2 separate regions of the Homo sapiens genome follow, and region 2 is linked to region 1. The links come from fine-mapping of genetic effects on gene expression. Tissue or cell type: whole blood. Region 1 holds a variant in brackets; the other region holds the start of a gene. All regions are shown on one strand. Distances are between the middles of the regions. Region 1 overlaps FAM185A (family with sequence similarity 185 member A). Region 2 holds the start of FAM185A (family with sequence similarity 185 member A).

Evidence for each region. PIP is the estimated chance that this variant, and not a neighbour inherited with it, causes the effect.
Region 2: FAM185A starts here. The variant in region 1 is the best candidate, but not a certain one, in a credible set for the expression of FAM185A in whole blood (TOPMed, PIP 0.66).

The regions. Positions count from the first base shown.
Region 1 is chr7:102,790,888-102,796,271 of GRCh38, forward strand. All of the region lies in intron 7 of FAM185A (family with sequence similarity 185 member A), which reads left to right. Among named protein-coding and RNA genes, the nearest start is that of FAM185A, 45 kb to the left of the region's middle. The variant GT/G (reference allele first, on the strand shown) is at 2,313.
Region 2 is chr7:102,745,743-102,751,126 of GRCh38, forward strand. It overlaps FAM185A (family with sequence similarity 185 member A), which reads left to right and starts at 3,257. Exons shown (of 8, transcript NM_001145268.2): 1 at 3,257-3,916. The coding sequence starts at 3,466. It also overlaps the pseudogene RASA4DP. RefSeq lists silencers at 2,947-3,036, 3,077-3,246 and an enhancer at 2,980-3,274.

The DNA of each region.
Region 1 (5,384 bases):
AACACTGCCGGAAACTAGGAGTGCAAGGGTAATATAAAGCATGGTCTCACTGCCTTCTGAGGAGCTTACATTCTAGTGAGGAAAGGCAAACCAGAGAATACAGTACAGTGGGATCAATGTTATAAACGTATGTACATTGTACTGTGAGAACACAGGGGTGAGGAAGTGAGAGAAGTCAAATATGGCCAAAGTATAGAGAGTAAAGGGGAAAGTGGCATAAAAGTAGGCTGGAGAGTTTGGGAGAGGTCAGATCATATGGGACAGTTTGGATTTTATATTAAGAGCATTGGGAAGCCCTTGGAAGGTTTTAACTTGGGGTTCACATAATCAGATTTTTGTGTTAGAAAGATCACTCTGAATGTTGAGTGGGGATAGATGAGAAAGAACAATGGTGGATGAAGGAGAAAAAAACAACTTTTGCTTTTTAGGAGGTTACTGCAGTAATTCAGCAGAAGGAGTACAGGGGCCTGGACTCCATAGTGAGCTATCTTAAACTCAGCAAATAAATAGGCCTTCAGTAACTTTTGCTTGAATATAAAGACGAATGAATGCTATGAGGAAGATGCATGCTTACCTCATTGGTTATTATGAAGCGCCTTAGCCTATTGAGTTCTTTTTGTGTGTTACTTGTTATTATGGCTTATACTCCGGCCCCACCTCCTGAACCAGGAAGGGCCAAATCGCAGAATGATGAGTTTATTTCCTGTTCACAGTGGAAGAATCTAGGTACTGATCAAGCATCGTTTTGCAGAGTAGCACAGACTACCCTATGAGGTTGGTCCCCAGATGGATCTGTATGTTGTCTCTGATAGCAAATTAAATCCATTAAAGTAATAATGGACCTCAGGTGAAGAGAGCAGCAGTCTCTGGAGGGAGCTGTGAGTATGAACAGGTGATTGGGTTTAAGAGAAACTTCCATATTTCATTTTGGTTTTAAAACTGTTTGGTACCCAGTCAGCCACAGGCCTTATGTATCAACTGGATGAAATAATTTAAGAGGCCTAGAAAATCAGGGCAGATTGCTTTTTTCTGTGGAGATTTCCAATCTGAAACCAAATTTTGGAAATAATGAGCAGCTTTATATGTGAGCTATTATTATAGGCAGCTGAGCTCAGCTCATCTTGGCCTTCCTCATAGAGCCCATGAGGGATAAAAATAGAAATACTCTTATTGCTAAAAGCCTGGATTTTATCTGCAGCATGACTTCTGGATAATCTCTGCAAGAAGCCATGCCAGTAAAATTATTCCCTTAGGTTCCAGCTTCCCACAGGGTTTTGATGTGTCAGCTCTATAATTTTATTTGATTTCCTGCTCCATGGTTTCCTTTGCTATTGCTGTCACTGATAAATAACTCAGGTGTATAATTCCTACCATGATTTACACGTATTATGTGCTATTCTGAGGTCAAAAGGAAACCTGAGACTCTCAGGCTGAAACATTTACCTACTAAAAAGCTATGCACAAGTGTGTATTGGGGCTGCATTCTATAATCTTCATGAGAGTCTTGATTCTAAGTTTTGTCCTCTACCCATGTGTGGCAAATTTAACATGTTGTGAGTGGCTTAGGTAAGATGCTTCTAATAAGTTGGCTTCTCTATTAGGTTTTAGACTTGGTTCATCAACTTAGATATGAAACTTGACTGTGGTAAACATCAAGTCTCCAAGCCCAGGTATGCATGTTGTACAAAGTCCTTTGGTCTTTACAACTCCACAATTTAGATGTTTAAATGTTCAAAGAATATTAGAGGTAAAGTGCGTTGCCAGTGAACGGATTGGTGTTTGTCATTGTCTGGATAGTAGGGAAGCTAGCACTACTGGGTTTACCTCATTTTAGTAAAACTGGAAATATAAAGCATATACAACATAAATTCATTTGGGATAAAAATAAACCACCAAGTCAGAAAAGAGTTCTTAGCTTGTCTAAAGGACAGAGGGTAATAACATACAATGGAATTGTTATTTATAGTGGAATACTCGTTCATGGGTTGGAAGAGGTTGAAATGGGACTAAGCTCATAAGATGCCACTTTAAAAATCTAGAGACACTGTTTTCTCTCCAAATCGGGAAAAATCCAGTCTTTTGATATGACTAACTCTTGGAAATAGCTCTGATTTTAGAACCCACTAAAGTTTTTGGTTTTTCAAAGCTTAGAGCACATGAATTTGTCAGCAATGTATATATATTTCAGGACCAGATGGAAGAAATTCAATAACAGAATGAAGAATGCTCTAAGGCTTATAGGTATCTGCTTAAAAATACTTTGACAGGGAGTTAATGTAGGAACTGTTTTCACGTCATAGTGCTTTTATGGT[GT/G]TTTTTTTTTGTTGTTGTTGTTGTTTTTTGAGACGGAGTCTCTCTCTATCACCCAGGCTGGAGTGCAGTGGCACCATCTCGGCTCACTGCAACCTCTGCCTCCCGGGTTCCAGGGGTTCTTCTGCCTCAGCCTCCTGAGTAGCTGGGACTACAGGCGCCCGCCACCATGCCCGGCTAATTTTTGTATTTTTAGTAGAGACAGGGTTTCACCATATTGGCCAGGCTGGTCTCACCTCCTGACCTCGTGATCCGCCCACCTCGGCCTCCCAAAGTGCTGGGATTACAGGCGTGAGCCACTGCATCCGGCCGCTTTTATGGTGTTTTTATTTCCCCACCTTTTTGTTAAAGAATAAGATCTTGAGAGTATCATGGGTAATCAGATGTCAATGTTGTTAATGTTTGCCCCAAAAAAGAAGATCAGGTTTTCTTTCCATTCATCTGCAAACTTTATCTGTAAACACCATATAGTAAATATGTTAGACTTAGCAGATTACATATGGACTCTGTTGCATATATTTTTTTGTTTTTAAATAACCCTTTAAAAATGTAAAAGCCCGGCCGGGCACGGTCGCTCACGCCTGTAATCCCAGCACTTTGGGAAGCCGAGGTGGGTGGATCACCTAAGGTCAGGAGTTAGAGACCAGCCTGGCCAACATGGCGAAACCCTGTCTCTACTAAACATACAAAAATTAGCTGGGCGTGGTGGCGGGTGCCTGAAATCCCAGCTACTCGGGAGGCTAAGGCAGGGAGAATTGCTTGAACCCAGGAGGCAGAGATTGCAGTGAGCCGAGATCGTGCCACTGGACTCCAGCCTGGGTGACAGAGACTCTGTCTCAAAAAAAAAAAAAAAAAAAAAAAAGTAAAAGCCCTTCTTAGCTTTCAGGGCATACAAAAACAGGCCCCTGGCCAGATTTGGCCTGTGAGCTATAGTTTGCTGATCCCTAGACTAGAGTTCAAAGAGCAGGCCCCAATCTCAGAGCATTATGAGTTCTGTTTGTGATGCCTGTGGGGTTTTGTTTTATTATTGTCTTTGTATTTATTTTGGTCATTCAAGAAATATTAAACCATAGCCAAATCCTTATCCTAAGTGAACTATCCCCAGTAGTGAAGAAAACATGATTCGTGCACACAAAAGTTTAATCTTGTAACTTTTAAGAAACAGTGCAACCATAGAAGATATATGATGGCAAAAAAATACACAAAAAGATATTTACCATCACTAGCCATTAGGGAAATGCACATTAAAACCAGAATAAAATACTACATACTTACTAGAATGGCAAAAATTAAAAATACCGATTATTCAAATGCTGGCAAGTGTGCAGAGAAACTGGATCTCTTCTACATTACTGGTGGGAATGTAAAATGATACAGCTACTCTATAACTCAGTCTGGCAGTTTCTTAAAAAAATAGAAAAAAAAAGAAACTACCATTAATCACCTAGCATTTATATTCCTGGGCATTTATCCTGGGGAAATGTAACTTATGTTCACACAAAAACCTGTACACAAATGTTCATAGCTTTATTTGTAATAGCCAAAAAACTGGAAATGACTTAAATATCCTTCCATGACTGAATGTTCATATGACTCATGGTATGTCCACATAAGGTAATTCACCGACAAAGGGAACAATCTGTTGATGTAAACAACTTGAAGGGAATTTAAGGGCATTATTCTGAGTGAAAAAAGCCAATCTCAAAATGGTCCATACTCTATGATTCCATTTATATAACATTCTTGAAACAACAAAATTAAAGATGTAGAGAATAGACAAGTGGTTGCCATAGGTTAGGGAAGGAGAAGGACAGTATGACTTTAAAGGGACATGACAAGGGACTTCCTTTGTAGTGACAGAACAGTTCCATATCTTGATTAAAATGATGGTTATATATGAATCTATATATGTGATAGATAAAATGTCATGAGTATATACAAAGACATACCCGAAAAATGAATGCATGTAAAAACTGGTGAAATCTGAGTAAGGTCTATAGTCCAGTTAATTTGCCAGCTAATTTCCTGGTTTTGATAGTGCAGTATAGTTATAGAAGCTGTCACCATTAGGGGAACTGAGTGATGGGTATACAGAACCTCTCTCTACTGTTTTTGTAACTTCTTGTCAGTATGAAATTATTTCAAAATAAGTTAAAAAAGAGGGTGGAAAGAAGGCAGGGAGAGGGAGAAAGAAAAATAATGAAGTCTTCTGGGCAGGATGGAGTTAAAGGGTCTGACTTACCTTCCCACCTGAAACAATGACAAAAAAATTTAAAAATTAAGCAGATACAGGAAACAAACAAGATGAGTCTTGCTTACTGCCTTGAGAGAGTCTCCAGGCTCCAGTACGGGAAAAGGGAACTGCTCTTGAGTCTAGAACACTCCCTGAGTTAGGGAGATCAAGATGAGAGTCGATAAAGATCAAGACAGGGTTCACAGGACAAAGTACCAGAGGGAATAGAACCTGGTGCTCACACAGGTCCAGGAATAATGCCTGTTCTTCCCACCAGACTGGAAAGAAAATCATAACTCATGGGGCATTGGGTAGAGCATTTAGTAGTGGGAAACAATCAGTCTTAGGCTGAGCACCACTCTATAATTGCCTAACAAATTATAAAAGCAAGAGATGAAAGGCTTAAACTATTTCCAAGTAACTTAACTGCATCCTTGAGTGAAGCTCAAGATTTACAGGAATACAAAAATATCCAGCACCCAACAAAGTAAAATTCACAATGTTGTAACCCACCCAACAGGTTCACCTTGCCCACTGCCTAGAAAGAGCCAACTTATCAAGACGGGAATTGCAGTAGAGAAAGAGAAATTCACGCAGAGCTGGCTATGCAGGAGACCAGTTTTATTATTACTTAAATCAGTCTCCCTGAGAATCTGACGATCTGAGTTTTTAAGGATAATTTGATAGGGGGCCAGTGAGTTAGGAGTTTTGATTAGTCAGTCTGAGATGAAATCATAGGGAGTCAGAGCTGTCCTTTTGTGTTGAGTCAGTTCCTGACTGGGGGCCACAAGACCAGATGAGCCAGCTTATCAATCTGGGTTATGCCAGCTGATCGACTGAG
Region 2 (5,384 bases), 45 kb before region 1:
TAGATGGTAAGAAATCTTCTGCCCATCTGATTATTTGAGTCAGTTTTAGGAAACAATATATGCTAAGAAATGCTTTAAAATTGTTTTCTTATAAATGTAATATATTTTCACTATTGATAACACACAAAAAATTGCAGTAACCACTCATCATATCACTGCTTAAAGATAACAACTGTTATCAAGTGGTACATATCCCTCTGGAATTGTTTCTGTAAAGTATAATTTTATGTTAAATTTATTATTATTATTACACAATTGAGATCATACTATACGTGCAATTTTGTATATATTCTTTTCACTTTATATATGGACTATTTCCCATATCAAGATATAATGTTTAAATTGTTGCATAATATATCAGCTATATACTAATTTATGTAATACTGTCTTATTTGCGAGCATTTAACATTTTTTTTTTGAGACAGAGTTTCAGTCTTGCCATCCAGGCTGGAGTGCAGTGGTGTGATCTCGGCTCACTGCAACCTCTACCTCCTGTGTTTAAATGATTCTCCTGTCTCAGCCTCCTGAGTAGCTGGGATTACAGGCATCCATCACCACGCCAAGCTAATTTTTAGCAGAGATGGAGTTTCACCGTGTTGGCCAGGCTGGTCCTGAACTCCTGACCTCAGGTGATCCACCCGTCTCAGCCTCCCAAAGTGCTGAAATTACAGGCATGAGCCACTGCACCTGGCCAGGGAGCATTTAAATTGATGCAATTATTTTCTCTTACAAGTAACCCTATAAAACGTAATTCCTTGAGCATACCTAATTTTATGCTTACATCCCCAAGAGCACAATTTCTGAGTCATAGAAAAAGCTTTTCATTCTTATTGCTGAATTGAACTCTAAAAATTTTGTGCTAACTTAACACTCCTACCAGAAGTATATGTTCATGACCACGGAAATAGCTTTTTAAAACTAAGATGTGAAAATATCTTAGAAACAAACTCTAAATAAGGAGAAAAAAGTTGTATATAATTTTCTACTTATGAGGTGAATAATTTCATTTTTTCTTCAAAGGTGTCAGGAAAATGGACGTTTTGGTAGAGTGATAAAAGGGCCAGACCTTCTAATTGCTTAATCTTAATGTTTCTGAATCTGAATCCTCATCTATAGTGTGAGGAGAATAATTTCCCTCCTAATTAGTGAGGATACATTGAGATGACGCATGTGAACATGGTTTGACAATTATAATGTCATATGGATGGAAGATACAACTTTTATTAATCACTGTTGATATGTGGACAGATTTGATACTCATTATACTGTTTTTAAGTGTCTATAACTTTAAATATTTTATGCCAATCTTAATATTAATAATTTTCTCCATTTTCAACATTGTATGATCAGCAAAGTAAATTTTCAGTCAATTCTATTTGGTTTTTATTTGAAAAAGTAAAATAATGATCATGCAACATAGAAAATTATAGTTCAGTTGCCAATTCCATTAACTTAGTTTGTCTCAGAAAAGGAAAAATTACCATAGACACAGAATTAACTATTAGAATTAATATTTAATCTAAAAATGTCTAGTGTTTCTACAGAAAATTTGAGTACCTTCTCAACTTCCTTAAACCAGTGCCTTTTTCAAATTTCTTTTCAAAGTTACACCTCTCAATTTTCATAAAAAATAGTTTGAAGATTATTCTGAATAATTATAACCAATGAAACACAAAGACAAGAAAAGAACTATTGCAGTGGGCCCTTGCTGAACCTGAGCTAGCACCTATAATGAGTGAGTCTTCACCAAAAGAATAAGGAGGGAGGAAGGACTAGAAGGACAGAAAAGAGGCAATGATAACTTAAGAGAACACTGAATTTTTAAAAATTTTAAAAAGGTAGTGGCTAGCAGAGAACCTGAGACTTGTACCCATGAGAACTTTAGCCCAGTCTATCTATCACGATAGCCCCAAGAATTCTGGTCATTGTACTTGGGTAAGGGCTTCTATTTTTTAAGGCACTTGCATTTTATGAAATGTTAGTGTTTGCAGGTGTCTTGGCTAAATAATTTAGGGAATACATTTTAGGAGGAAGTAGGGGCACAGAGGGGGAGAGAGAAACCAGGCAGGAAAGAAGAAAAAAAGAAAAAAGAAGAAAATAAATCTTTCTGTTCCCATTATTTTACTGCCTATAGAATTATAAAAGGTAAACACACACACACACACACACACACACACACACACACCCCTTATAGGGTCATTTAGAACCATCTTTCTTCATTTTAAAACTAAAGAAACAGGTCTAGGTGACACAGATGAAGCAGTGGCAGAGCCAGGAAAATAACCTGACCCTTGTCCCTGCTCTTTCCACCGCACCATGGTGACTCTCTTTTTTGTGTCTTTTTTTTTTTTTTCACTCTAAAACTGAGGATCATTTGTAGTCAAAGAGATCAATGCTATTCTCAAAACAAGTTCTGATCTCTCATAATTTTCTTGGTAACTCAGAATCAATGTTAAGTACGTTGAAATAAAAATACAGTTCTTTACACGGTAATTTTGTAGACTGTGCACCACGGTCCCATCCATTTTCTTACTTGATCCTTACAAAAACCCTTTGAGGCAAGGCAAGGAAGGTATTATTATCTACATTTTTAAAGTGAGCAAATTAAAACCCAAAGTAAGGTCACTTAGGGTCAGGACGGAGCAAGTACTCTATTCCTATATTTGGAATATAGGAGGGAATACACTTCCAAAGAGGCAATTCCCTCAAAAAGCACCAATCTTGCTCTTTACTTTCTTACCAAGGCATTCTCCATGCCCTGGAGATGCCCTCACTAAGTTAGTGAAGCTTGGATGTTGACATCCACAGAGGTTACTCCTAGTTTGCACCTAGTTGTCATCTTAAAAAGCGCAGTTTCTTACCCCTTCCCTTGGTCCTGATCCTTATTTAGGCTCCTATTTTTCTCTTTGGGATTTGGCGTCCTGGGTCTCACTCCAAAGCTCCACCCTCTCCAACCAAGAAGTCGCGTGCTTGGTATCCAAGGTGACCACGCAGCTTTACCCGCGTTGCCCCTTCCGTGCTTCCCATTGGCCAGTGGACTCCCATGTACCGCCCCTCCAATAGCCAATGGTCTTGAGACAAAGGGCGCCCGCCTTTCCAGCGATTCTAACACCTACCCTCTTACCCGTGCTCCCCTGCGCATTGCCTCCTGGGAAATGTGGTTTCTAAGAGGCAGAGCTCTGCGACTTAGAACTACCTATCCCGTCGGCCTTAGCGAAAGGGGGTGGACTTAGGCAAGGGGTCCAGGTCAGAGTTTAGAGCTTTCAAATCCCAACTTGCCCCTGGGGATTGCGCGGCTGATGTTTAGAACGCCTAGTCAAGCCAACCGGCTCGCTCTTGTTTCAGCAAACCCTGACTTACGTCTCCTATTTGACTTGAGGCGGCACAGTGGCCAAGTCGATTGGCCGTGGCAAGTGACCCTCCCTGTGGCTGAAGTGTTCTGAGGACTGGCGAGAGAGGCGCGCCATGCTTGCCCCCTGCTCAGGTTGGGAGCTTGGCTGCTTCCGTCTCTGTCTCCGTCAGGTCCGACTGTGGGCTGGCGCTGGGCGCTGGGCTTGCTGGGCTTGCCAAGCCAGGCCGTACAGCTCAGGTGGGAGCGAGCGCTGGCCCGGATCGGAGACTGAGGTCCCTCCGCCTGGCCCGGGGCGCCGAACTCTGAAGGAGTGGACACTGCAGGTGAGCCCGTTTGGTCGGCTGCGGGCGCGGCTCCCGTGCCACCTGGCCGTGAGGCCCCTGGACCCCCTCACCTACCCGGATGGCGACCGCGTGCTGGTCGCGGTGTGCGGCGTGGAGGGCGGCGTGCGGGGCCTGGACGGCCTGCAGGTGAAGTACGACGAGGATCTGGAGGAGATGGCCATTGTGTCTGATACTATCCACCCCCAGGCGTCCGTGGAGGTGAACGCGCCCCTGAAGTTTGGCAAGTGAAGTGAAGTGAAAACGGGTTTGGGTCCCAGGGAACGCACAGTGAACTTAATAAATGTGGTCGACGTGCACTTTTAATTGGTCCTGGCTCTCTAAACCTAATTTACAGTTGGCCCCTTCGGAAATGCACCTTTTCCTCTGTTCTGTTCTTGAGTGTCCGAGTAGTATTTAAAAATTAGGTTCCCAATTATAGAAATTTTATACATCGAATGGAAACATGATTTGGTATAATCCAGGTCAAATTCTATTTCTGGAGCCGCTTGTGTTCTCCTTTATCCCGTTGTCATTAGCAAACTGGCTTATTTTTCAAGGTTGAAGTTTCTTGACAATTCATTCAATGGTATGGCAGTCCATCTACATTTCATCTTGCTCACAGCCTGGGGGTCTGTCCCAAAACAGCCCTGTCAATAGGATGTTCCGGGTATCACCTGGTTTGAGTATTTGGTTTTAGACGGGCGCCCAGCTTCTTACTGTTATATTTCCATTCTTTTTGGCCTAAGTTTTCCATGAGTAGCAAGCTTTGAAGAAAAACACATGGTAAGCCTGCCTAGGAAGCTTCAATAATAATGCCTGCAAGATACCTTTCTTAGCTTTTCCTAAATGGCAAGCCACTGTGTACACACACTTTTCTAGGAAGGGCTCCCCAGACTGTCATTCTTCCTGGGACTGATGGAAGATATTGATGATGATGATGATAGTAATAATAATAGCATTTAGCATTTTTAAGATCATCTTTTATAATGCTTAGAGTTGCCCAAATAGTAGATGCCGTAGTCCTCCCTTATCCACCGTTTGGCTGTCTCAGTTTGTTACCTGCCTCAGCTGTTGTAGGAAAATATTAAGATATTTTGACAGATCACAGTAATATAACTTTTATTACAGTATATTGTTATAATTGCTGTATTTGTTATTATTGTTCATCTCTTACTATGCCTAGTTTATAAATTAAACTTGATCATTGATATGTATACAGGAAAAAACATAGAATATATAGGATTTGGTACTATTTGTGGTTTCAGGAATCAAGTGGGGGGGCGGGTCTTGCCTACTTTAAGAGAAATCATCAATATTTATGTTAATTCCAAATTAAATATCAGCGTTTTTAATTTTTAAAATTTGTATACAGAGATGCCTGCAGTTACATCTTAAATAGACAGCCAAGGATGGCATTTGTAATTCCTTATTTTCCAAACTTGCTTCATATACCACTGCCATTTGTCCACAATCTTGTGGGGTTTTTTGTTTGTTTGTTTTGGTTTTTTTTGAGACTGCATCTCACTCACTCTGCCACGCAGGCTGGAGTACAGGTGCACAATCATGGCCCACTGCAGTCTTGACTTCACGGTTTTAAGCAATCTTCTCGCCTCCACCTCCTGAGTAGCTGGGACTACAGGTGCATGCTACCATGCCCGGCTAATGTTTTTGTTTTTTTGTAGAAATGGAGTTTTGCTACATTGTCCAGG